Linked DNA regions of Homo sapiens. The protein of the gene in region 2 interacts with the protein of the main gene of each other region in a pairwise test. Each region holds a gene or a part of one and is shown on either strand. Other genes may lie near its edges.

What was found. Proteins that work in one complex are often made in the same cells at the same time.
Region 1: the proteins of SIGLEC12 (region 2) and PTCH1 interact in binary tests that used the Homo sapiens proteins (3 or more experiments, as listed by UniProt).
Region 3: the proteins of SIGLEC12 (region 2) and TMPRSS4 interact in binary tests that used the Homo sapiens proteins (3 or more experiments, as listed by UniProt).

Annotation. Positions count from the first base shown.
Region 1 is NC_000009.12:95,478,262-95,485,461, forward strand, and holds part of PTCH1 (protein patched homolog 1), read right to left. Parts: intron 3,943-7,200; coding exon 3,873-3,942; intron 3,780-3,872; coding exon 3,688-3,779; coding exon of another isoform or gene 3,684-3,687; exon of another isoform or gene 3,566-3,683; intron 2,328-3,565; coding exon 2,129-2,327; intron 1,830-2,128; coding exon 1,708-1,829; intron 887-1,707; coding exon 739-886; intron 1-738.
Region 2 is NC_000019.10:51,498,801-51,506,618, forward strand, and holds the start of SIGLEC12 (sialic acid-binding Ig-like lectin 12 isoform a precursor), read right to left. Parts: upstream 3,001-7,818; 5' UTR 2,934-3,000; coding exon 2,507-2,933; intron 1,594-2,506; exon of another isoform or gene 1,574-1,593; coding exon of another isoform or gene 1,501-1,573; coding exon 1,120-1,500; intron 917-1,119; coding exon 638-916; intron 418-637; coding exon 370-417; intron 1-369. UniProt on the Homo sapiens protein: Putative adhesion molecule that mediates sialic-acid dependent binding to cells. The sialic acid recognition site may be masked by cis interactions with sialic acids on the same cell surface.
Region 3 is NC_000011.10:118,100,883-118,108,082, reverse strand, and holds part of TMPRSS4 (transmembrane protease serine 4), read right to left. Parts: intron 4,983-7,200; coding exon 4,830-4,982; intron 3,393-4,829; coding exon 3,263-3,392; intron 310-3,262; coding exon 208-309; intron 1-207. UniProt on the Homo sapiens protein: Plasma membrane-anchored serine protease that directly induces processing of pro-uPA/PLAU into the active form through proteolytic activity.

The sequences.
Region 1 (7,200 bases), on a different chromosome or scaffold from region 2:
TGACACAGCGCAGCCCTTCTTTTTTTCTGATGCATTTTTTAAAAAAGTTCTACGTGATTCCAGGGCAGGGAGAGAAGCTGAAGTTGGGCTAACATTAAAGAACCCTGTTTTAGGACAAGGGCCATGGCTAATCAGTGGCAGTGGGTGCTGCTGAGGGCTGGTGTCGCTGGAGTTCACTCTGAGTGCTGTATTTACTCCAGGGCTGAGACTGCTCGTCTCTTCTCCGTTAACTTCACAATTGACTTGCGGTCCCATCGGCTCCCCACTAATCCAAAACAACTCATTCTTATGGCCCTCCTCCCCCTGTTCATTTGCTGGCCACTTTTAAAAGGTCACATGCAGCTCAGTAGAGGTCACTGCTTGGGAAACAAAGGCCAGCTCCTGTCACATGACCTGACCAAGGGGCCTGCAGCTGTGAACAGATTCTATGCCTTGCTAATGTTTTCCAGACACCTTTGCTAACCAAGTGTTTTTTTAAACACTGTTATGTGCTTTAGTTCTGGAATTCACAACTGGTTACTAAACATGTCTCAGGGCACCCCAATTAGAACTAGTCTTTTAGATATTATCCCAGGATTTTCAATATCAAAGAAGAGGAAAAAAGTTTTCATCCCATCAAGTTCCCAGAATTGCAATGTTTTGAAAATAAAGCGAATGGAAAGAAATGTTTTAAATAATGGTGAAAATGAAGAATTGCATAACCAGCGAGTCTGCACGCCGATTCGAAGGTGGGTTTACCTCCACATATGTCCTCTGCCAGGCCTCCAGGATGGCTGCCGCTTTGTCCTCGTTCCAGTTGATGTGTGAGACATACTCGTACCCCTTGAAGTGCTCGTACATTTGCTTGGGAGTCATTAACTGGAACATGGTCTGCAGGGCATGGGCGCTGCAGCACAGTCCAAGGGAAGGCACATCATCAGTATTCCCAGGAAGCAGTTTCCACTGCCTCAAATCCCCAGCCAGCTCCCCCAACTCACTGGCTGCAATTCTTTTCCTTCTCTGTGAGCACATGTTTCCATTAAAATGGGACCAGGATGGTTATTTTATTTAATAGATTGATGTACCATATTAAAGGTATAACCTTACAAACCTTTTACAGATATACCCCAAAATTAAATTAATAGGCAATTTCCTTTCACAGTTTCCATTCCATGAAACAGGAAGGGGAGAGGAGCAGATAGCTTGAACAGATACACCGGGCTCAGTGACGCATACTTGCTGTGCAGAAATCCCAGACGGTGGCGTTCCCAAGGGAGAAATCTTACACGAAACGCCAGACACCTGACTGACCAGAGTCCACAAGTGCACAAAGGATAATTCTTATTGAGCCGCTGGCTCTCCATCTTTTGCTAACAGTCTATGACACTGTGCAGCTCGCACCACCAACTCTCTCTGACCAGTGTGTCCCGGCCTACTTTACACCTGCTCCCATTCTCTACCTAATGGGCAGATCTCCTTAAACCCTATAGTCAGGAACTATGGTCCTGATGAAAACTACAAATCCATTCTTGAAAAATTCCCCACAAGGTGCTTTTTCAAGCTGTTGCAGTCTGCTACTATTTCTTAATATTCTATGACGCCACCTGGCTAGCGAGGATAACGGTTTAAGTATTAATACAAATACACTTGCCGATGTCAGGAGGGAAGTGGCTTTTGAGGAAAGGAAGAAGACTACAGGGCATAGATTGTCCTCGGGAGCTGGCTTACCTGACGAGTTTTCCAGTGCTGTTCTTGACTGTGCCACCCACAATCAACTCCTCCTGCCAGTGCATATACTTTCTGGATAAGCCATGACATCCACCATTCAAAACAAGGGCCATATCAAGAGGCTAAAATAAAAAGACAGCCACATAATTATGGGAATTAGTAGGCAGGTCACATGCCTTGTTAAAATCCAGTGCATTAAGGGCTTGTGTGTTTCAGAGAGAACATTAATAGCAAGGCTAATGGGAGGTGTATGGCAAATCTTACAGCAAAATTTAGCTCTATAAATAAACTTAGTTCCATAGACAAAGACGATCATGGAGAATGAAATGTTAAAAATGAAAATAATAAAGTGAACGATGAATGGACACAAAAAAGTGTTTTGCTCTCCACCCTTCTGAGAGCGCTCACTGCTGGTACTCACTTTGGTTGAATTTTTGTTGGGGGCTGTGGCGGGGCAGTCTGGATCGGCCGGATTGAGGCAGGGGCGGTCCATGTAACCATGACCAACCTCAGCCTTATTCAGCATTTCCTCCCAGCTGTCCACTTGATAGTTTATTTTCTTTAACTCTTCCAGGAATTCCAAAGGGTCGAAGTTTGTCCACCGCAAAGGAGGTTTACCTCTGCAAAAGAAATTAGGAGACGAGACCATGAAAAGAGCCTTCTAAACGCATCGTAAAGTAACACGGCTGCGCCCACTGCATCCACCTTGTAGGAGGTTCCTGGCAATGCTGCAGTTCTGGGACTCTGGCATCAAAACAAATGCTCCTTTCCAGCATATCTGCATAAAAACTTAGGTCAGGAAAATAATTCATGACTGAAGATGCTAAGCAGAGAGAGGACTCATAAGTTAATGAGGGCACTGAATAATCTTTAATTGCTGATATTGTATATTTAATATCTACATACAAAATTAGCCAAAAAGACAGATCCAAAATTAAATTTTTTTTTTTTTAAAAAAGAGGGCGTCACAATATCAAATTAGCACTTGGCAGCCAAATAAATACTTTGTAAATGTCATCAATCAAAATATTTGATCTCTGCTACCTTTAACAATCCCATACTTATGAGCGCTCTCTGACAGCCTGGCAATGGAATGGGCAAGCCCCCTGCAGCCTCTGCCATCACCACCATCACAGCCACTTCCCCCCACACTCACTTTTGAATCTGTGCTGTTGACAGACCAGAAAGGCTTTTGGCTGCCTGTTATGTGGTTCAAACCACACTGTAGCTGCTTAACCAGGCTGAAGTCATTATTCGGAATCTCCCAACCAGAAAACACAAAACCCCTTATTTCCCATCTAAAACTGTACACTGAAGGTCAGGGGATGGCCACTGCAAATTGCTTTTGCAGATATGTGCAAGCCAGGACAGAAACAATAACCCAAGCTCTCACTCTTGCATAATTAACTGAAAATGTCTATGCTGATTAACAATTATTCTCTAAATGATGCGGTATATATAATATCCAACTGCTAAACGGTGAAACATTCCCTACTGTGGCCTTCACAGATAGTGGATTTCCCCCTTAAATGCCATTAGTGTGATCTAAAGAAAGGTTAGCTTTTTACTTCACAGGAAGATCTCAAACTCAAAATATTTCATTCTGATGTGAACCCACTCACTAATAAAGTCTCTCCTTAAAAAATAAGTGTCTAAATGCCTCGTCTTCGAAACTACGAACATTTTAAAGAGTTAAAAAATCACACGTACTCTGCAATAATTTGCATTTTATTTGCATATAAATAGGTTGGTAAAAGTGAATGAAATTTAATGACGCCTACAGAATTGTTTTTTGAAAAGAGAAAAAACATTCTGCTGAAATCCCCTCTCCCCCGACTATTCACTCAAAAAATGCACATGGAATTTCAATGTTTTTATTTCTTGTTCAAAACTGAAATGGAACAAACAATGATAAGCAACATTAGAAACACTGAGTCCTAGAGAAGTCACAGACATCAGAAAGCATGATCACACACTTACAGGAGGTATGCTGTCCCAGACTGTAATTTCGCCCCTTCCCAGAAGCAGTCCAAAGGTGTAATAATCAAACAAGGGTAAAGATATTCTATTATCTGTCAAAGTTAAAAAGAAGAGGCCATGCGTTAGGTTAAGGCACACTACTGGGGTGTTCCTGAGAAATTTTTGCCAACAAGAAGAAAATATACCTGATCCATGTAACCTGTTTCTGTGATAAGCTCTCCTGATTTGTAACACAAATGTTCCAATTTCCACTGCCTAATAAAATGAAAAGCAGAGACAAAAATTTCTCACTGTAATAAGAAAATTAGTGCAAATTCGAAATGATAGAACATATAAAAAGAACTGCAATTTCGATCACTTTTAAGCATCTGTCAAAACGAGCAGAGCTTTTGCCAAGTAGAGACCCAGCAAGCTTGCTTTAATGAATAGATAATACTCAATCGTAATTAACATGTAGGGTGTTTATGTAAATGAATGCTACCAAAGTACTTGAAAAGTCTTGTTTTCTTAAGTGTTCTCCCAATAATCTTGTTTACACCATTAATCTGCTTTTCTACATACATTAAACAACTTCAGGGCAGCCCAGCTGAATTATCATAAATTCAAAATAGGCGGGGATTAAATTAGGTTTGCAAAGTATTGACACATACTCAGGTGCGGAGATGTTTTACTGGCAGATCATGTCCTTAATAGGTAGTATTCAAAATGAACTCTCCTGCTCTTAACCATTAATATTATAAACAACAACATGTGCCAGGTGGGTCAAATTCTAACTTCACAGTCTCTTCTATTCCTATCTTACAGAAATGTGAATAAATATACAGATCAAGAATTAATTTAGTGCTGGGTGCTGCAGCTCACGCCTGTAATCCCAGCACTTTGGGAGGTGCAGGCAGGAGGACAGCGTGAAGCCAGGAGTTTGAAATCAGCCTGGGCAGCAAAGTGAGACCCTATCTCTATAATGAATGAATGAAATGAATGAATGAATAAATAAATAAATAAACTTTAAAAATTAGCTGGGCGCAGTGGTGCATGCCTGTCATCTCAGCTATACAGACAAGAAAATTACTTGATCCTGGAAGGCTGAGGCAGTGAGCTGTGATTATGCCACTGCCCTCCAGCCTGGGTGACAGAGAGTGACTCTATCTCTACAAAAAAATGAAAAAAAAAATTGCCAGGCGTGGTGCCACACATATATAGTCCCAGCTACTCGGGAGGCAGAGGTGGAGGATCACTTGAGCCCAGGAGTTCGAGGCTGCAGTAAGCTGTGATTGCTCCACTGCACTCCAGCCTAGATAAGCAAGACCCTATCTCTCAAAAAAAAAAGAATTAATCGGGAGTTTTATTGTCTCTAGAAAAGTGTTATATAAGCCCATATCTTTCCAGGTGTGTTAGGGAGATCAGTCTAACGAAAAAAAAAAGAAAATCTGGAAGAGTGGGGATGGAAAAGTCCAAGGGAAGGAAAAAAAAAAAAAAAAAAGAAAGAAACACAGTAAAAACTTCCCTCCCAACTGCTCTATTCTTGGCCTCCTAAGGGAGGCCTGTCTTCACCCAAGGAGCTTACTGTGTCCTCTTCCCTGTGCCTTCCTGTCTCTCAGCGCCCTGTTGAAATGTCACCCCCATGTTAAGCTTGTTGAAAATGACCCCCTTCTCCTGAACTCTAGAGCCCTGGCTGGGCAGATCTCCTGCTGAAACCTGGCGCAGCTGTCATGGGGACCGCCCACGTTTCCTTTGTCCATGTCTATCTATACTGATGTCTTTCCTCTCTTTGAGAGCTGTGCCTAACTTACCCATATCTCCGCCATCCTCCACCTAGCCACACATCCATGGACATATTTATATTTTAATTCTATACAGCATCAACATAGACTATCCGGCATGAGTAGGTTCTCACTTTATATTACTTGATCAACTCTCATTTACACTTGAGAAGGACATCATTGTGCATTAGAAAAATGAATGGGCTTGAAGCCAGAAAAAGGCTTTGAAACCTGGCTCTCTCATTTCATAACTGCATGAACTTGGACAAATGCTCTAATTAGTCTAATTCCCAGTTTTCTCACCTAAAACATGGGATGGGTTGAACTACATGTTCTTAAAGTTCATTCCAATGCATAAAATTACTCTGGACCCATCTCAGCTTAAGAGTGTAATTTAATGGCACAGACCCTCACATCTTCTCCTGAAGCATGTAGGTGACAAACACTAAGAATGCATTGGCCATGCTTGCAGTGGCCCCAGGACAACCTGGCTCCCCACAGGGATGCCACTTCACATTCTGCAAAACTGTACCAGGTAGTTGCTTCCCTACAATACTTGTTACAGACCAACAGGGCAAGTTTGCCTGGCAGAAACATGATTTTACATTTTCTAAGGCCCTTGCATTCATGTATCTGGTCTTGTTCTGGGAACCATGAAGGATACGAGCACACATGACCATAAGCCCAGGTTACAGATAAACAAACAAGAATGTGCCAAAGACATGTGACTCGACCCTGGCTGTGCTTGTCCCTAGGATCCTGTCGAGCTGGAATGTAAGCAGAGGTTAGAGAAGGGACAAGAAAAATCTTAATTTTATTCTCTTCTTTGGTTCTCCCTGGCTGCTGAATATGCCTATACTGCTACTTCCTCACCTCTTCCAGGAAAAATAAACAGTACTAACAAAGGCCTCAGTGAAGAGGTGCTGAAAGCCTAGGGGAGGTGATGGGGTTGGGTGACATCAACTCAGAGGTCCCCTGGAAATGGGGTTTAGTGATGCCAACCTCAAAAGCAATCAACAAACTGAATGCCCACTCTGTTCTCAATGCTGGGGTGAAAACAGACAAGAGGTGGCCCCTGCCCTGTAGTAACCAACAGTCTAGATACATAAGAAAAAGGACCGAGTTTTGAACTCTTCCTAATGCTTTACTCTACTCACAGCATTGTGAAATTAGCAATACGATGCTAAAACATGACTTTTTAAAAAGGTGTCAGCGGGCCAGGCATGGTGGCTCACGCTTGTAACCCCAGCACTTTGGGAGGCTGAGGCAGGCGGATCACTTGAGGTCAGGAGTTCGAGACTAGCCTGGCCAAAATGGTGAAACCCCATCTCTACTGAAAATACAAAAATTAGCCAGGTGTGGTGGTGGGCGCCTCTAGCCCCAGCTCCTTGGGAAGCTGAGGCATGAGAATCGCTTAAACCCGGGAGGCAGAGGTTGCAGTGAGCCGAGATTACATCACTGCACTCCAGCCTGGGCAACAGAGTGAGGCTCTGTCTCAAAAAAATAAATAAAAAGGTGTCAGCAACAATTCCCATGGTGGCTCAGCCCCCAACGTGCTGTGTGACACAAAACAACTAAGAGTACAAAGTCACAAGAAGCAGCTCTTCTTTTTCGCATTGTTTTTAAGTTCAGCAAGGGCAATTCAAAATATCACTCTCCAAAAATCTCTTAAGCAATGAAACATCTTACAGCCTGGGTGTATAGTCCCCAAGTGGCTCAGCGTCATCCTCTTTTGGGGACAGTGCCAAGATAC
Region 2 (7,818 bases):
GTGCATTATAAATTTTTGCCCATGTGACTATAGTATGTATCCAAAAGAATATACCTCAGAACTATTGGTGAAAATAAAAGGATGAGGCAATATTCAGGAGCTGGAAGATAAGAGTCCTCAAATCCTTGAGCTGCTGTGTGAATGTCCCTCTACCCTTGCTGTGGGGCCAAAATAGGTGTGTGTGTGGAGGAGTTCAAGGGGAGTGAAGGGGTGATGAGAAGGTGCTCAGGTGGCCAAAAGGCTGAGGCTGAGGGAGGGGGGGGCCGGGGCTCACCCACAAAAGGGTCTCAGGTCACCAGGGTGAGTCCTGGCTCTCCCCTGAGTTGAAGGCTCTGCTCCTCCAGCCCCAGGGAGAGGACTCCATCTTACCTGTGCCATCTCCTTGGAAGACAGTCATGGTCAAGTTCTGAGGAGGATCTGGAACAGAAAGACACGGAGTTCCCATCACTTTGAGGACTGGGGACACTGACCCTGTCTCCCCAGGAGCCCCATAAATGGGGAAGGTGGAGCCAGCATCCTCCTGACCCCCAACTCCCAGCCAAGATTCCAGGACCCAGATCCTTGAGTCTGGGTCCCACATCCAACTGGCCTCAAGGAATCCCGATCAAAGACCCAGACGTCCTGGCCCAGAACTCACAGGATATGTTGAGTCGGACAGCCCTGGTCATGGTCACGCCGGCCCCAGGCAAGGTCACCTGACAGGTGAGGCTGGTGCCATGGTCCTGGGGCTGTGGGATGAGGCTGAGCATCGAGGAGCGAGTGATAGTGGGGTCCAGGGAGGACACGGAGGCCCCCATCCAGGTGATCGTGGGGGGCGTCCCCTGTTCACAGGCCCAGGGCACAGAGCAGGTCAGGTTCCTGGGGTGGCCAGACTCCAGGGTCCCCGGGATGGAGAAGGTGGGCATGTGAGTCAGGGCTGGTGATGAAAGGGAGACAGGCAAAATGAGGGTGTTGGGGTCTGAAGTGTGGTGCTGAGGAGGCTCAGGCTCTGGTCTTACTCCTCCCCTGAGCCAGATATGCTTCACCTCCAACTCCCTCCCAGGATGGGGGTCCCACCTCAGCCCTACCCTGCGGCCCTCGGGCCTTCCCCTCTGGCTGGTCCTAGAGCCAGAGATTTACCTGTCACATGCACAGAGAGCTTGTCATATATGTAGTTCCATTTCCTGCTTCCTCTCTCCACCTGGAAGTAGTACTTCCCTGAATCCCCCTTCCTGGCATCTCTGATGCTCAGGGAGCAGTTGTTGGTCTGTGGGTCCCCAAGGAGGAGGAATCGACCGTGGGTATCCTCTTGCACTTTTCCACTTGGGGTGTTTGTGGCCACTGGAATATCCCATGGTATATCGGCCCCTTCCTTGAACCAGGATCCATAAACAGGGCTAGAGGCAGTCCAGTTGTAATGGGGGTAAAGGACACTGCAGGGCACAGAGACACACAGACCCTCCTGCACAGTCACCGACTCTGGCACCTCCAGCCTGTATCTTGACAGTAGGTCCTGGGACGCTGTGGAGAAACGAGGGTCAGCCCAGCCCCCACTGTCCCTCTCTTCATTTGCCCATAGCAGGGGCAGCAGCATCTCTGAGGCAGAGGCTTCCTGGGCTCCCTGTGTGAGCAGAGAAGGGGGAGGGAGAGGAGGGGCAGGGCTGTGGGACCCACAGGGGGCTGGAGAGGAGCTGGAGACCTCAGCCCTGCATGGAAGAGAAACTGCAAACCCACATGCTATAGGAACTCATTCCCTCTGCACAGAGTGAAGGAAACCCTAAAGCTCAGAGACCCTAGAGACCCACCCAGGGAGGAGAAGAGACCGTGTCCCGCCTCCTACCTCCGGGCTTCCCTGAAGCACCAGGGCCTGCACCAGACACGTAGGTCCTGCCCTCCCGGCCTCTGGACCATCGTGGAGGTCCCTCCTGTCTTTTGAGCATCTAAATGTGGATCTCCGAGGACCTCGGGGCATGAGAGATGGAGGGGCCGTGTGCTGAGTCTCCCTGTCCAGGCTCAGGTGCCTCTGCTGCCCTTGGTTTGCGCCAGGAAGTGCTTCCTCCCTGGCCTGGCCTGAGAGAGTCACGGGGTTGTGTAGACCTAAGGCTCTCAACTGGGGAGGACTTAACCCCCCAGGACGTTTGACAATGTGTGGAGATAATTGTCTCGCTGCATGGGTGGGGTGGGTGCTTCTGGCATCTGGTGGGGAGAGGCCTGGGATGGTGCTAAACCCCGGCCATGCCTAGGACAGGCCCCAAAACAAGGAGTCATAAGGCCCCACATGCCACAGTGCCAGCGTCAGAGGCAGGATGAGGATGTCAGGCCTGTGGGTCAGGGCTGGTGAGGGGAGGGGCTTGCAGGATCAGGAGGGGCATCCAAGGTGCGGTCCTGGGGAAGCTCAGGCTCTGGTCCAGCTCCTCCCCTGAGTCCATCACCCCCGGCCCCCTCCCAGGACATGTGTCCCGTCTCAGCCGTGCCCTAAAGCCCTCATCACATTTGCCTTTGGCCTCTCTTGGAGCCCGTGCCTTACCTGTCACATTCACAGAGAGCTGGTCATATTTATAATTCCATTTCATATTTCCTCTCTCTACACAAAAGACGTATGTCCCTGCATCACTCTCTCTGGTGTCTCTGATGCTCAGGGTACAATCCTTGTTCTGTGGGTCCCCAAGGAGGTGGAATCGGTCCCGAGTCTCCTCCTGCACTGCTCGAGCTGGGTTGTTTGTGGCCACTGGAATGTTCCGGCTTACATGGTCCCCTGCCCGGAACCAGTAGCCATGAACTGGATCGGAGGCAGTCCAGCCATTTTGGGGGTAGGAGAAGGAGCAAAGCACAGAGACACACAGGCCCTCCTGCACCGTCACGGACTTCTGCATTGTCAGCAGGTAATCCTTCTGTTCCTTAGCCCCCACTCTCCCACAGAGCAGGGGTGGCAGCAGTAGCAGCAGCAGTAGCATGTGTCGGGTTGGAGGTGCCAGGGTTGCTGAGGTAAGTCTGTTCCTCAGGGTTCTTCTCTCAGGAACTGAGAACTCAAGATTTCGAGGAAGCCGCACAGGAAGTTGGGGGTGGGTTCTGAACGGTGACCTCACAGGAGGAACTTCACACACAGACACTGTCAGGGCCGGGTCACCCCTGGAAGATCCACCGTCCACTACCCCGTCCACTCCTGGGGACCCTGAGGCCAGAGAGGATGAAAGACTCACCCAGATTCCAACCCCATGCAGGGCCCACCCCGCCCACTGCCTCCCTCTCAGTGCCCTTCCCCTTGGGTGATATTTTCCATAAGGTGAAAATGAGTCCCATGTGGCCAGACCTATGAAGTACAGGCTGTGGATGTCTCTCTGTAGGTCAGAGGTGACACTAGGATATAAGAGATGGGGGTGCAGGTGGGATGAGCAGGCAACCTCTCCTTCCTCCCTCAGCGGCCGTGAGGTGGAGTTCAACACAGCAGAGCTAGACACTGTCCCCAAAGAGTCACTGTGTAGTGGGGAGACACTGAGGCTCCTGATATCTGAGCTCTCCATGGCAGGAGCTTCAGTGGGGGTACCAGGCAGGGTGTGGTCGCTCTCTCCTATGTTGGGGAATCAGTCTCGGGAGGACTGAGCAGAGAGACACGGGGTCGTGGAGGTGAGGATTCCGTGTGTTGATACACACCAAAGACACAGAGAAGAGCCCAGTTCACAGGAGGCCTGAGAAGCTAAGGCTGTGACTGTTGTACAGTGAGGTCTGGAAGGGAGGAATGTTGGATGGGAAGGGACAGATTTCTAAAGGGGCAGGCGTTTCTCTCTCGGCCATGGCTCTCTGGGTTCAGGATGGGATCCTTCACCACTGCTCTCTCACAAGTCCTCCTTACTCCAGAGCATGAGGGGTCTGCTGGCCCTTTGTTCCTGCAGGCTCTGCTCCCAGGGTTTCAGGTGAACAGGAGACGTGGAGCGAGGACACCAGCCCTGGCGTGTCCACGCTCAATGATGGACAGGATTTCATGGGAGAAGAAATGCACCTGAATTCAGCAGAAGAGTTTTTGAAACTGTATGCTATGTACTGGGAGGAAGGTGGGGAAAATCCTGCAAGATTCGCCCTCCTTAGACCCATGTCAGCTTTTCTTGAAACAATGATTTTTGGGGAAATGTAATACAAGTAAATAAAAGTGCCACCTAAAAAAATGACTCAGTGATTTTCACCAAATTATCACTGTTCAAGAAATAGAACATCACAAGATAATTGCCAAATTTCTCCCATGAGATGAAGAAAGAAATTGCATTCATTTATTCAGCCCTGTGTTTCCCCTTCCTATAGGCCACATGCAGTTCCTCCTGAAGATGCCCCAGCCTCACTTTAATGATAATGGTCTCCTTGCTTTTCTATGTAGTTTTATCATCTGAGTGCACTGCCTTCAATACTATGGCTTTGCATAGGTTTTTCTAAAGACTATTTTTACATAAAAACCACAATCTGTTTTATTTTACTCAGCTCCATGGATCTTCCCATCCCCATGTTGTCCCCAATTGCCCATAACCTGGAGTAGAGTCAGTTGGCTGTGATAATTGAAAAGGAAATGTGCAGGATTGGGGCATGCATAGCTGCTCCTCTCCCTGACACCACTAATTCCTGCATTTGCAGCTTGTATCTCATCCTGCAGACCAATCTGCTCCTGGGCCCCCATCCTTGCCGTGTCACTTTCTTCCCGTAAGGACAGTTGCAGCATCTCAATGGGAAGAAGGGCTCGACCACGGCCCATCTCTTTCCCACAGTCCCCAGTTGGCAAAGAAAAGCAGAAAAATGGGAAGGAGAGACATGAGGAAGCCACAGAGAATCTGCAAAGGAAGAACGTTTGAACCACATATGACTCAGAGGAGCTGATGGGCCCTCTAGACCCACTTCCATAATTTGGAGAGGAAGATATTAAGGACCAGAGTGACAAGTGCTACAGCTACATGTCTCTCCTCAAAATTCATTTGTTGACCTTTGAACCCCCATGTGATAGTATTAGAAGGCATGGTGTTTAGATAGGTGGTTTGGATTAGCCTAATAGGATTAGAGCCTGATATGGTTTGGATCTGTGTCCCCACCAAATCTCATGCCGAATTATAGGCCTCAATATTGAAGGTGGGTTGTAGTGGGAGGTGGTTGGATCACGGGGGTGGATTTCTCATGAATGGCTTAGCACCATCTTCTTGGAGCTGTTCTTGTGAGAGTGGGTGAGTTCTAACAAGATCTGCTTGTTGTCTGTGTGCAGCATCTCCCCATTTGCTCTATCCTGCTACTCTGGCCATGTGACATGCTGGCTTCCCCTTTGTTTTTTGCCATGATTGTAAGTTTCCTGAGGAACTCCCCAGAAGCCAAGCAGATGTCAACATCCTGCTTCCTGTACAGCCTGCAGAACCACGAGCCGATTATTCCTCTTGTCTTTATAAGTTACCCAGTCACAGGTATTTCTTTATATCAATGGAAGAATGAACTAATACAGAAAATTGGTACAGAGGAGTGGGGCATTGCTACAAAGACACCTGAAAATTTGAAAACAACTTTGGAACTGGTTAACAGGCAAAAGTTGGAAGAGTGTGGAGAGCTCACAAAAAGACAGAAAGATGAAGGAAAGTTTGAAACTTCCTAGAGACTGGTTGAATAGTTATGACTGAAATATTGGTCGTGATATGGACAGTGAAGGCCAAGCTGAAGAGGTCTCAGACGGAAATGAGGAACTTATTGGAAACCAGAGCGATGGTCCATTTTGTTATGCCTTAGCAAAGAACTTCACTGCATTGTGCCCCTGCCCTAGGAATCTGTGGAGCTTTGAGCACAAGAGTGAAGATTTTCAGTATCTCGTGGAAGAAATGTCTAAGAAGCAAAGCATTGAAGACATGGCCTGGTTGCTTCTAACAGCATATGCTCATGTGTGAGCAAAGAAAGAAATCACTGAAAGCTGGAAATTGTATTTAAAAGGGAAGCAGAGTGTAAAAGTTTGGATAATTTGCAGCCTGGCCAAGTGGTAGAAAAGAAAAGCCCATTTTCAGGGGAGGAATTCAAGCAGGCTGTAGTCCCAGAGACCCCAACATTGAAAACAGAGGCTCTTTTTTCCTGGACAATGGGGCCCGAGGTTTGTCACAGACATGTGGCCCCACAAACAAGGGCACTCATGAAATTCTCACCATGCACCCATGCTCATTCTCTCCCTTGCTTCATACTCCTGACTCAGCCAGGTCCTTCCAGCTCCGGCTTCAGGGATTCTGCTCCCAGGCCACCCTCCCCCAGGGCTCTCCCTTCCTCTCCAGGGTCAATGCTCACACGATGAAGATGACACAAAAGGACAGGAAGACCAGGCTGGGGCTCCAGCCCCCCTTGACCGCCTGCAGCATCACTCCTGGAGGGTTCTGAGCTCTGCAGGTGAATTCCCCTTCGTCCCTCAGATACACTTGAGGCAGTTCCAGCAGCCCAGGATTCAAGGGCTGTGAGAGGCTCAGGGTTGGGCTCCCCCAGGTCCAGCTCAGCCTGGCAGGGGGATTGCTGTCAACAGCACAGACCACATACAGGGACTGGCTTTCCAGGACTGGAAGGGCTGAGCCATTCCCCAAGGTGGTGGATGCTGTAGAGAAAGAGACAGAGGGTCAGAAAGACAGTGATCAAGACAAGGAGGAATGATACAGAAAGAGACTGGTGGATGGAACAGACACTGATACAGGCTGAAGTGCAGGGCCATACACACCTTCTCAGCTCACTGTTGGGAATGTAAACTTGCCCACTTTTAGTTGAGAACAACTTCATTTTATTAAAATTAGAAAGAACGTATAACACTGCTATATTTTGCTTTTAGGAACTATGCTATACACTCAGATATTGCTTGTGGAAGTAGATTTATGATTATTCATTACAGTGTTTCTGCAGTACGATAAAATTAGTGCCATGATTTTCCACTGGGAGATGCTACACAATCAGAGTCCATCCATGCAGTGGAATCACACACAGCCCTAGAGGAGGGTGTGGGCAGTCTCACTATTGATATTGGAGCACCTCTGAGATCCTCCAGGTGAGCAAACCAAGGCCCAGGGCAGCCTAGATGGACGCTGGGCGATTCTGGGGACAGACTCTGCTATGCATTTTGAATTTTCACCCATGTGACCATAACATGTATCCAAAAGAACGTAGCTCAAAACTATTGGGGAAAAGGAAAGATGAGGTAGGTGGTGTTTTCAGGAGATGGAAGAAAACAGGCCTCAAAGCCTGTGTTGTGAATCTCCCCCTGCCTTTGCTGTGGGGCTGAGGGGTGTGTGTGTGGAAGAGTCTTAGGGGAGTGATAGGGAAGTGTAGAGTCATCAGCAGCTTGCAACCTCAACATGGAAAAGCTACAGGCACTCATCTCCAACCTATGAGAGCAGCCACGTGGCCTACACCTGTCAAAGCCACAGGCAGAACTGCCCACGGCCTTGGGAGCTCACCCCTTGCACCAATGTGCCCAGGATGTGGGACACAAAGTCAAAGATTATTATTAAGCTCTAAGGTTTAATGTCTGCCTGCAGGAATTTGGATTTACATGGAGCCTGTTGCCACTTTCTTTGGGGCAATTTCTCCTTTTTGGAATGGGAATATTTCCCCAATGCCTGAACCACCAATGTATCTTGGAATTAAATAACTTGTTTCCTATTTCACAGGGTCATAGGTGGGAAGAACTTGCCTTGAGTCTCAGATGAGACTTTGCACTTTCAGTTGATGCTGGAAAGAGTTCAGATGTTGGAGGACTGCTGGGAAGAAATTATTGTATTTTGCAATGTGAGAAAGAGATGAGATTTGAGGAGCCAAGGCAGACTGATACAGTCTTGATATTTGTCCCCTCCAAATCTCATGTTG
Region 3 (7,200 bases), on a different chromosome or scaffold from region 2:
TGTATTAAAAACAAGTCAACACAGAAAACCTCTCCAAAATGTGAGTCTATAGCTCTTGGCATTGAATGATCCATCTGGCTAGGAGTTCTTCCTGATGTCTGCTTACATTCCCCTGGCTGCTTGGGGTTCCAGGTGAGCTGGTTGCAACCTGAAGAGCAGCGTCCATGTGGGGGCCTTCTGTAGGCCAGAAGGTGTCCCCTCACTTACCCACTTGAGTTCCGCATGCGAAGCTCCTGGCTGTTTTCTGTGATTTCAACAACATCCAGATCCTGGTCTGGGCCAATCTCCACAGCTCTGAAAGTGGGTTTGCTGCTCACATCAAGAGGGAGAGAGAGTTGTGAGCTGGGGCAGGGGGTTAGAACAAGATGGTAGAGTTGGCCCCCACTTTCAGGAGAAAGAGTGGCAGAGAATGCTTGGTGGGGAGTGGCCAGGGAGTGGAGATGGTCTTAGTCAGTGAAGATGGGGCCTGCTTTGCTATACAATAAAGAACCGACCCTTGGCATCCCAGGACTCAACCCTCAGTGCATTGCTGATGTAACTTGCTTTCTTGGGTGGGGAATCCAAATCCAGAACCCAGAGCCCTGGAGAAATGTTAGGGGTCTCCTTTCCATATTCCCAGCTCTGTCCCTATTTCAAATATCCCAGCAATGTCTTCTGGTTCACAGCAGGGAAACAAAGAGGCATAGGGGCTCAGGTTAGCTCCCTTCTCACCTGGGAGGGAGTTGGAATGTGGATATTTCGTTCTCCAAACAAAGCATCTGGTCTGACTTTGATAGCGGGGGTATGTTTTTGGCCCCCTTAGAGATATTTAATAGAACAGGACTAGATCTGTCTTCATATGAATCCAGACAAACGTTTCTCTCAACTGGACCACTCTCCCTCTTTCTCCCTGCTAATCCATGCTTGCTACTTTCAAACCTTGGGTTGAAGTTTTTCCTCCTCCAGGAAGCCTTCCTTGATTAATTCCATCTCTCTGATTGTTCCTTTACTGAATCTGCCTCTTCTAAATCTTTTCCTTCCATCCCTAACTATGCTAGTAATGTTAGTAGAAGCTCTCCATGGAGGGCTGAGTCATTGGCAATACTGGTGGATTGGCACATTCTCAGGCAGGAATGCTGGCACTTCCTGGAAGGACCCAAGTCTCAGACCTGGGAGGACTAGAGTGCATTTTAAGAGTCCTCATGATCTAGGTTCTGTCCCTGGCTCTGGCACTAGTTTGATGTGTGGCCTTGGGCAGGTCATATTCTTTTTCTGGGTCTCTCCAAGCCTCAGTTTCCCCCTCTATAAAAAGATGCACGGGGCTGGGTGCAGTGGCTCACGCCTGTAATCCCAGCACTTTGGGAGGCCGAGGTGGGTGGATCACCTGAGGTCAGGAGTTCAAGACCAGCCTGGCCAACATGGTGAAACTCGGTCTCTACAAAAATATAAAAATTAGCTGGGCATGATGGTGCGTGCCTGTAATCCCAGCTACTTGGGAGGCTGAGGCGAAAGAATCACTTGAACCTGGGAGGTGGAGGTTGCAGTAAGCAGAGATGGTGCCATTGCACTCCAGCCTGGGTGACAGAGTGAGACTCTGTCAAAAAAAAAAAAAAAAGATGCGTGGACTAGATGATCCCTAGGGTCTCCCACATCTTGAAATGCCTATGGTTCTAGGACAAGAAGGGCCTCCGATCTAGAGAGAGGAAAGAAAGTAGAGAAGTCTGAGACCTAGAAGGACGGAATATGGTGGAAATGGACATTCCCAGGAAAGTTAACTTCTGTTCACCAATTCCATCCCAATGAATGATTCTGATGAACTTTGATTTTGTGAAGCACAAGACTCAGGTGGTTTGGTGCCTTACTGAGCTCCAAAAGGACAGAAATTCCAGGAGCCTATCATCTTAAGAACCCCTGGAGACACCCAGGTTTCATAATCAAGGCTCAGCCTGCTGTGCCAGGAACGGCTGATGCAGCAGTTGACTGGACTACAGTGGGGAGGCAGGGCTGGCTGCAGCGAGGCTGGGCTCCGTGGCTGCAGGAAGAGGGGAGAATAGCAGGTGCTGGGCATGAGTTCCTCACTCTCCTTGAAATGAAGGTGGTGGGGTGTGCTTTCTAGAGGGTAATGGAAGTTGCCCCCTATGGAAAGTAGAGAGCAGCAGAAGCCCGTTGAGCAGAGAAGAGAAAGGCAAATAATTCTGATTGATTTGTAATGGCTGCCTGGAGCATTTACTGAAAAGGACTTTGAGGCTGTATTAGGGATCCATGGGAGAGAGTTCTGTGATTGGTTGGTGATGTCTGCCTAGTAGAGTTTTTGTTTGTTTGTTTGTTTGGCCTAGTCTCTGGGTCCAGTCTGTTAGAATCCTGAAGAAATCTGAGGCCTGCCAGAGATAGGCTATCTCAATCTGCAACTGAATGTATGGGTTCTTTTCCATCCTCTCCAGCTAAACTCTCTGAGTGATCAACCATCTCATTAGCCCCTTCCCTTAGAGATGATGTCCTACATGAGAATAAAGAATTACTCAGTCTAGAAACAGAAACAATGTGGGAACTCCTAATGCGCAAGAATTAGGGGTCTTGGGCTCAAATTCTAGCCCTCTACCTCCCAGCTAGTACCCTAGCAAGTTACTTACTTTGTTTGAGCCTATTTATGAAATAGATATAATATATATCTATATATAAGATATAATAACTATCTTTTTGGTTTTCTGCCAAAATCAAGTGAATATAAATATATAGAATGCAAATTACTCTTACTATCATCTTACACCTTTTCATCCACTCCAGATTTGGAACTGCTTTTGAAATTTGCAGAGAGAGCTGGGATTGCTGAAGATGGGGCCCCACTGAAACTAGGCTCACTTAAGCTAAATCTTAACTAACGAAACTTTGAATAAGTTAACTTAGCTTTTGTATTACTGGGCAGGAACAGTTTCTTGCAAAGCCAGCACAAAGGAGTGAAGGTTGAGGAGTAAAGGAAAGGAGAGGACTGCATAGACGCTAGAAGTGTGTGTGTGTGTGTTGGAGGGCAGCACACATTCTCTCACTGGCATTGCAAAACTATCCTATGAGGTTGGCATTAGTTCCCCCAATTAACTCCTGAGGAACCTGAGGCTTAGGAAATTTAACTTCATGTTGCTTATAAGTGAAATGCTGGGATTCAAAAGCCATTCTGCCTGGCTCCAATGCCCGTAATTTTTAGGAAAGAGAGAAGAAGGGAGGAAGGAAAGGAGGAAGAGGAGGAAGGAGGAAGGAGGGAAAAAGGAGAGAGGCCCAGGTTGGTTACCTGCTGTAGCCCATCTGCCTACAGGCTGTCTCAGCGAGAGCTTCTGTGAAGTTGTCGAAACAGGCAGAGAACCAGTTCCCTGTGGCCGAGTCCAGCACCTGCAGTGTGGATCGGTCCTTGGAGAGGCGGACTGGGAGGAAAGGAACCTGAGTTAGATGGAACGGGGGGCCCAACTGGCCCATCCCCCTCAGAACTCATCATGAGACCAGCCCAAGCTCCCCCAACCTAGAACTGGGGGTGCCACAGAGCCCCAACACTTTCAATGTCAAGGGAATTTCTTCCATTTGGCTTTGTCTATTTGGGCCCCATTTTGACAGTAGCTAGTGTGACCAGAAGTCCCAGGGTAGGTCTCCATTTTGACCTGTTGCCCTGACCCAATGGTTAATAGTGCCCCCTTTTGCTCTTACAGGTATCAGTTTTGATGATCAATTATGTGGTCACTCTACCCAGCGACCATATACAGCTTGTTTAAATTGTATGGACCACATACCCATCCATGGTCCACACAACTTGCCCAGCCTGGGGAAATGTCTGAGAGAGGGACCTAAGTCCTTCTCCAAGTAAGGTCAGAGGGGAAGGTTGAGTGAGAAGTCCTACTGGCAGTAGGATGACAGGTGCCTGTGGGCATTTGACTTCTGATAAAGAAAGAGCAAATACACAGAAAGTCACTCAGCCCTGCCCTCAGAAGCCCCATCACTCATCTCCTACCTATCTTTTTTTCTTCAGAGCCCAAGCACCAGGGGGAAGAAGGTAGAAGAGCCCAGCCCAAGAGAGAACGTGGATTTTATGCTCAAAACATCTCCTATCCATTGAAAGGACCTGGCTCAGTCCTGTCACATAGCATGTCTCAGCAAACACTAATGAATAGAAGGACCAATAGCTGGCGAAGTGGCTGAGAAGTCTCTTTTCTAGTCTCCTTGAAATAACAAATTTCATAGAAAGGAGGAATGCCCCAAGGTCACCCAGTCTAGCCCTCTGCCTGAAATCCACCAGGCGCAGCACGCATGGGGCAGCCTCAGTTACAATTTCCTGTCCTTTCTGGCTCACATTTGGTCATCAAATAGTTACTGTTTGCTGTGTGTTAAGTACTAGGATTTAAAGGTAGACAAGACAGGGTCCTGCTCTCAAGAAACTTACACAGCTGGGCACGGTGGCTCACGCCTGTAATCCCAGCACTTTGGGAGGCTGAGGCGGGCAGATCACCTGAGGTCAGGAGTTCAAGATCAGCCTGACCAATGTGGCAAAACCCCGTCTCTACTAAAAATATAAAAATTAGCCAGGCGTGGTGGCTGGCACCTGTAATCCCAGCTACTCATGAGGCTGAGGCAGAAGAATCACTTGAAACTGGGAGGCAGAGGTTGCAGTGAGCCGAGACCAAGACACTGCACTCCATCTTGGGCCACAGAGCACTCTGCCTCAAAACAACAACAAACAAACAAACAAAGAACCTTATACAACAAGGATGAAAAGTGACAAGTAGGGGGCAGATACTATGCAGTGGGCCGTGGGGGCCTGAGCAGACCTCCTGCTGGGCCCACTTCTCTTGTGCCTCAGACCCTGCACTCACCTGCCACTGCAGGCCCTTCGGGGAAGCTCTTGACACAGTGCTCCTCGTCCTCCCCCAAGGGACAGTCCAGCTCTCCGTCACACAGCTGCTTCCTCGGGATGAAGTGGAGAGGCTGCCCGCAGAGGAAGTAGTATTTATCCAGAATCACCTTGACTGGAAGGCAAGTGCAGGGAGAGGCAGAGAGGGCTGAGGGTCAGGCTTGAGCAGGGAGACGCTGGGTTTTCCTGGCGATAGTGCTGGGCTCTCAGACACGCATGTGTGAGTTCCAGGCTCAGTTTTGCTACTTGGTAGCACACAGACTTGGGCCTGAGCCTCAGCTTCCTTGTCTGTAAAGTGGAGATAGTAACACCGGCCCCACCCCCACAAGATGTCTGCGGAGTCAAGAGAGGTCACGTGTGTGGGAGAAACAGGCTGGTAACTGCCTCTTACCCTCCAGTGCTCGCTCAGTATGTACTGGTAAAAGAGGAGGAACCCGGAGTCTGAAGACCCAGTTCTGAGTCCTAGCCCTGCCACCCACTGTGGAACTTAACTTTTTTCTTTTTTTTGAGACCGAGTCTCACTCTGTCATCCAGGCTGGAGTGCAGTGGCGGGATCTTGGCTCACTGTAGCCTCTGCCTCCCAAGTTTAAGTGAGTCTCCTGCCTCAGCCTCCTGAGTAGCTGGGATTACAGGCACATGCCACCACACTTGGCTAATTTTTTGTATTTTTAGTAGTGACGGGGTTTCACCATGTTGGCTGGGCTGCTCTCGACCTCCTGACCTCAGGTGATCCACCCGCCTCGGCCTCCCAAAGTGCTGGGATTACAGGCGTGAGCCACCGCACTCGGCCTTACTGTGCAACTTTATATGGATCGCTTTCCCTTCTTAGTTCTCAGTTTCCTCATCTGTACAATGGGATGATGATATCTATAATATCTGCCTCGCAGGGCTGTTGAGAGCATGTGGTATGATGGTAGTCATGAAAATGTCTCGTAACTATCAAGTATAGTTCTAGAATTGGGTGCTTTTACCTGGGTGAAAGAACTGTTAAATGGTAAGAACACATGGACACGTGCAGGGGGATCAACACACACTGGGGCCTGTCGGGGGGAGGCGGGAGGAGGGAGAGCATCAGGAAATATAGCTAATGGTTGCTGGGCTTTATACCTCAGTGAAGGGTTGATCAGTGCAGCAAACCGCCATGGCACACGCTTACCTACGTAACAAACCTGCACATCCTGCACGTGTACCCCAGAACTTGGAATAAAATTTGAAGAAAAAAATAATTAAAATATATAAGTAAAAAGAACTAAAATTAAGAAAAAAAGAGAAAGATCTGTGAAGGGGTTGGTCCTCGGTTTTGTTTTGTTTCTGCTCGCCGTCTTTAGATTCTGCCAGCTGCTTTCAAATTCTGTTGCTCTTTTGCCATTTTGGGATGATGGAAAGATGTTGAGTGTGTTTAATCCTTCAGGGAACTGATATTTTAACACTTTTTCTGGCCATGCATGGTAGTTCACACCTGTAATCCCAGCACTTTGGGATGCCAAGGCAGGAGGATTGTTTGAGCCCAGGAATTCAAGATCAGTCTCGGCAACATAGTGAGACCCTCGTCTATACGAAAAATTAAAAAAAGAATTAGCCAGGCATGGTGGTGTGCCCCTGTGGTCCTAGCTACTTGGGAGGCTGAGGCAGGAGGATTGCTTGAGCCTAGAAGTTTGAGGCTGCAGTGAGGTGATCACACGATTACACTCTAGCCTGGGAAAGAGAGCAAGACCTTGTCTCAAACAAACAAGCAGACAGACATACAAACAAACTTTTCCTTAGTGAAGACCCACAGCCAAACACCCTGGCAGGAGGGAACTCCTCCTTCCTAACTGAATTCTGTCTTGGCCTGATGGGACCCTCTCCAGTCCAGTATCACCCTGGGCTGGTCTTAAGAGTAGTGGCGTTAAATCTAATAATGGTCCCTGCTTGTCACCGTGTCAGGAGCTTTCCATACATTTCCTCACGTAATCCTGACAACAGTCTTGGGAGGGAAGTGTTATTACTAACTCACATTACAAACAGGGACGTGGAGAATTGAAGGTCAGGCTTTATTTTCCCAGGGCACACAGTGCTTCCAGTGTAGAGCCAGGGCCCATCTAATTCTCTGGGGAAGCTTGAGATGTGATCTGCTGGCCCTGACACTCCTGGCTTGAGTGAAGCAAGGGAGAAGGAGGAGCTAGATATTACTTAGCTCTTTGGAGTTTGGTTTATAATCAGGAGCCAGGGTAAGGCAGAGTCACTCCAGCCTCCTGGGACAAATCCAGGAGACAGCATTGCCAGTTGAGACTCCAGAAGCCATAAGGTTGAGGGAACCCGGCCCAGGATGGAGGACTGGGTAACAACCTCTG